Linked DNA regions of Homo sapiens: region 2 is linked to region 1. A link means that fine-mapping ties the variant in region 1 to the expression of a gene that starts in the linked region. Tissue or cell type: whole blood. Region 1 holds a variant in brackets; the other region holds the start of a gene. All regions are shown on one strand. Distances are between the middles of the regions.

Region 1 (2,500 bases):
GTCTTCCAGACACTGGGCTGTGGGTGAAGACCTGGCTGCCAGCATGCTGCTCACTGCGATGGAGGAGGCTGATGGGCCAGTGGGTCTCGGCAGTTAGCGTGCATCGATCTAGTCACTTAGACCAGAGCACAGATGACCACACAACCCACCTCTCTCAGTGTCCTACCTGTGCCTTTTCAACTGGGTGGGTTGGCCCCCTAGTCCAGTGACTATCCGTTTCATGCTTTTCCAGAGAGTAAACCTCCTGTGGTCACCTGGTGCTGGAGTAGCTACCCACAGTGTAAAGTTGGGGAGTGAGGGATGCAGGGATATCTTTCACCCTCTGTCCCAGAGCACTTGGTGCAGCCTGGCCTCAACCTGGCAAAGACCTAGGGCTGTCACTGGGTGGGCGCACCCCCTCCTCACTGTTACTTAGGACTCTGGTTTCTTGGTCCTCTTGCTGTGTACGTTACCACTGGGCCATCAGCTTTCCAGCTTCTAAAAGGCTGTTGAGGCCACCATTTCCATTCTTCCTGGTTTTTTTTTCTGTGGTTTTAGTCAGGTTTTAAGATGGAAGGGAATTAAATGTGCAGGCTTTGTTCCTCATTTCAACTTGGAGGTTCATATCTGTTATTTATTTATTTATTTAGAGACAGAGTCTCACTCTGTTACCCAGGCTGGAGTGCAGTGGTGCTACCTTGGCTCACTGCAACCTCCACCTCCCTGGTTCAAGCGATTCTCTTGCCTCAGCTTCCCAAGTAGCTGGGATTATGGCCGCACACCACCATGCCCAGCTAATTTTTATATTTACGTATATATTTTTTTGAGACAGAGTTTTACTCTTGTCACCCAGGCTGGAGTGCAATGGCTTGATCTTGGCTCACTGCAACCTTCACCTCCCAGGTTCAAGTGATTCTCCTGCCTCGGCCTCCCGAGTAACTGGGATTATAATGCACGCCACCATGCCTGGCTAATTTTTGTATTTTTATTTTTTATTTTTGAGACAGAGTTTCACTCTTGTTGCTCAGGCTGGAGTGCAGTGGTGGGATCTTGGCTCATTGCAACCTTTGCCTCCCGGGTTCAAGCCATCCTCCTACCTCAGCCTCCCGAGTAGCTGGGATTGCAGCGCCCACCACCTTGCCCTTTTGTATTTTTAGTAGGGATGGGGTTTCACCATGTTGGCCAGTCTGGTCTCGAACTCCGGACCTCAGGTGATCCACCTGCCTTGGCCTCCCAAAGTGCTGGGATTACAGGCGTGAGCCACTGTGCTCAGCTAATTTTTGTATTTTTAGTAGAGACGTTTCACCATGTTGGCCAGGCTGGTCTCGAACTC[C/T]TGACCTCAAGTGATCCACCTACCTCCGCCTCCCAGAGTGCTGGGATTACAGGCGTGAACCACCACACCTAGTCCAAATCTTTTTTTTAATATGGGAAAATCTTTTTTCCTTTATAGTGTCTGCTTCTGGTGACATGCTTAGGAAACCATCATCCTGATATTGTATAACTCTCCTTCTGTTGTCTTGTGGTCCTCTGTGATTTAGGTTTTTAAACACATAGGGTAAAGGGTCCCACATACAAGCTGTGGGCTCCTGTCCCAGGTGGGCAAGCAGGCTGCACACACAGGCAGCAATTTACTGGGAGGCTTCTTGGGTGGGGTGAAGTGGAGCTGCCAAAAATTTATTCTGCCCTATGAGAGTTCACTTGATTGATAGATGTTGTGTTTCTCAAAATTAGAAAATTAGAAGAAACTCACAGAAGTTTCCTTCGAGCAGAACATAAATCGGCTGAGAGGAATCATCCTGCCCCCCTGAGGTCAGGAGGGTGAATCTGTGCCCCAGGGAGGAACGCACCTTCCTGCTTTAGACACCAGCAGAGGACAGAGAAGCTGGCTGTCCTGGGAATTCATGCCCTCATTCAGCAATGGGAAAGCAGTTGGACCAGGGAAGGGGGCCTGGCAGTGTGGCAGGGGGAGCAGTGGTAAAGAGGGTGGGGTCAGGGGAGAGGCCTCACTGAGAGGGGAGAGGGTCCTTGGTGGGAACCAGGGCGGTTGTGGAAGGAAGAGTCAGGGCGTGGAGCAGAGCAGAGCGGGAGTTGGGGTGGGGAGGCCAGTTCATGCCTCATCAACATGCCTGTGTGAGTGTCCTTCTTGCGGGCGGTGGAGCTGGCCTCAGGGTACACTGCAGGTGACTCAGAGCTCCAATGGGAGGGTGGCTCTGCCTGAGGGAGCTGCACATGCTCATTGGGCCATCGTCTGCTGAGGAGGGGGCAACAATAACCTCAACACATGGCGGAGGTGTTTTGGGATGCATCCTATTGCACATTTGGGCAGGTTGTTGCCTGACTTATTTCTTTAACGCATACCTAGCACTTCCTGTATGTCCAGTGCCTTATAATATTAACTACTATCATCCTCAGGGCTACCCGTGAGGTCGGCACTGTCCCCACCCTTTGTGCAAAGGAAGGATAGGGAGGCGCTGCCAGATGGGTTGAGGGCAGACCGGGGCAGCTTGCCTCAGGCCTCCCT
Region 2 (2,668 bases), 22 kb before region 1:
CCCGGGAGACAGAGGTTGCAGTGAGCCGAGATGGCACCACTGCACTCCAGCCTGGCCAACAAGGGCTAAATTCTATCCCCCCCCCCTCAAAAAAAACAATAACGATTTTGGGAGTATTAGAGCAGAAAACGTTTGAAAACATGAACAGCTCTCACATCAACACAAGACATGAAACTCTGTTGGCAAGAGAGGCCTCTTTGGGGAGAGTGCTCACTCCTCTCCCACCCACTCTCTACCACCTTCAACCTCCTGTCTGGGGCACAGTAACAAGGGGTGTAAGGGGTGTACAGTGCCTAGCAGGGGCCTGGCACTTAGGCTTCAGTAGGTGCCAGTCCACAGTCTCCTGAGGCCCATGTTGGTTGGTGTCCACCTGGTGCTTATTGACCACTTGGGCTCCAGATTTTCCTCACGTCACCTCCCTCCCCAGGGTAGCAGATAAAGGCCCCATAGTTCCAAGGAGGCAGAACTTTTACATTCCTAAAAGCATTCTCAGGCCCCCATAACCCCTCATCCCACCTTCAGCTCGCTCACCTTCACCTATCAAATTCGTTTGACATCTGGCCTCCAGCAACTAGCTAGGCTGAGTTCTCCATGAAGGGGACGTGGCTGCTGGTCAAAAGGGAAAGCCCATGTCTAAAAATTAATTAACGTGGTTTAGGGGCCTCACATTCCCAACCCCCAAATACAGCCATTGTGAGATGTGAGATTCAAAAAATCGAAGAGTGAAGCGGTGATGAGAGTCCATCTGGTCGCTCTTCGGATGCGGCGCTAGCAGGCAGTTGCATGAAAGCAGATCCCAGATCACGTTGCACTGGCACACAGTAGGTACCCACACATATTTGATAAATAAACACTCTCTCCCTAGCATTACTATAGATAGCTGGCAGCTTGGCCTGGCATCCCGGAGGGGTCTGGATCTCAGGGACTAGATAAGGCCAGCACACTGAAGAGTTGCAGAAAATGCAGGCGGTCAGGCGCAGGTCTGCTGCGGGAGCACCTGCCGTGTCCGACAGCTGCACTGGAAGAGGGGCGTGTGTCTCCCAGCCGGGCGGAACCGAGACCGCTTCGTCCCCGGCGGGGAACTTCATTTCCCACAAGCCTGTGCGCGAGACTCCATTTCCCACAAGCCCTCCTTCACTTCCGGCTCGGCCGAGGCACTGCGGACGGCTTCCGGGTTTGGGCCTGGCTCTGTGACTGAGGCGGCGGCGGTGGCGGCCAAGCGGGATACGGGCGGCGGGAGCTGGGGAACAGGCATGGACGTTTCCGGGCAAGAGACCGACTGGCGGAGCACCGCCTTCCGGCAGAAGCTGGTCAGTCAAATGTGAGTAGTGGTCGGGGCAGGGGGCTGGATTGTGGGACCTTCCTCCTTAGCGTGGCGGGCGAGGCCAGGGCCGGACCCGTGAGAAACCTACGGCGCCGGGAGACAGAAGGCGCCGGGGACTTGCGTGGGTCCCAGGGCTCGGGCCCCCCCGTCTGTCCCCTCCGTTCCCGACATGGACTGCTCGTTTGCTTTCCTGGGGCCGAGCTCTGCAAACCAACGAGCCCTGGCTTATGAATCATCGTCTTGAGCTTTCTCATTCGTCATTTGTGTGCTTTGGGTGCAGACTTTCCCCCGCTTTTTGAACCACACTGAATAGGGAAAGGGAGAGAAGCAGCCGGCTGTAGTGGGTTTAGCAGGGCTGGGTGCTTCATGGTTTCTCTTCCAGAAAAGCGCATCAACGGTGAAAGAAAGTGATGGGAGGAGGGTGGATGTAAGATGAGATTGGGAAGGTAGTTGTTTGGGGTGTGGGCGGTGGGACGGAGGATCTGAGGGTGACCCCCCGAAGGAATGTGGACTTTGCCGAAGGATGGCAGGAAGCCGCTGTCAGGAAGCGATCGTCGTTTCTGGAGGAGAGCGTGAAGAGCTGGGGTCAGTGGCCCCGCTCAGAGGAACTCTAGCCCCTCACCACCGACTGCTTGTTTCTGTTAGCAGTTTTTTTCATGCGCGTCCGTGTGAAGAGACCACCAAACAGGCTTTGTGTGAGCAATAAAGCTGTTTATTTCACCTGGGTGCAGGTGGGCTGAGTCCGAAAAGAGAGTCAGCGAAGGGAGATAGGGGTGGGGTCGTTTTATAGGATTTGGGAAGGTAATGGAAAATTAGTCAATTGTTCTCTGGTGGGCAGGGATGGATCTCACAAAGTACATTCTCAAGGGTGGGGAGAATTACAAAGAACCTTCTTAAGGGTGGGGGAGATTACAAAGTACATTGATCAGTTAGGGTGGGGCAGGAACAAATCACAATGGTGGAATGTCATCAGTTACGGCTGTTTTTACTTCTTTTGTGGATCTTCAGTTACTTCAGGCCATCTGGATGTATACGTGCAAGTCACAGGGGATGCGATGGCCTGGCCTGGGCTCAGAGGCCTGACAGTTTTTAACTGAGCTTATTGGCGTGTTGTGCTCGCCACAGATTTGCCTGAGACACAGCCCCTTTCCTGAGGGATGGTAAAGGAACCGTCACAGCGCAGTCTTGTCAGTCTGTAATGTGTATACTGCAGGGGTTTCTTGCGAAGCGGCGGTTAACTTGAGCAGACCAGGGGCAGTCTAGTGAGTAGGTGACGAATAAATTGAGTCCTAGAAAGACAAGTAGGAGTGTGAATAGCCACCATTCCAAGCTGAGGAGTTAGGA

Evidence for each region. PIP is the estimated chance that this variant, and not a neighbour inherited with it, causes the effect.
Region 2: MED15 starts here. The variant in region 1 is fine-mapped to the expression of MED15 in whole blood (TOPMed, PIP 0.92).

What each region holds. Positions count from the first base shown.
Region 1 is chr22:20,528,638-20,531,137 of GRCh38, forward strand. The region is part of intron 1 of MED15 (mediator complex subunit 15); the gene reads left to right. Among named protein-coding and RNA genes, the nearest start is that of MED15, 22 kb to the left of the region's middle. RefSeq lists an enhancer at 1,523-2,500. The variant C/T (reference allele first, on the strand shown) is at 1,313.
Region 2 is chr22:20,506,426-20,509,093 of GRCh38, forward strand. MED15 (mediator complex subunit 15) reads left to right here and starts at 1,185. Exons shown (of 18, transcript NM_001003891.3): 1 at 1,185-1,321. The coding sequence starts at 1,254. RefSeq lists an enhancer at 1,168-1,277.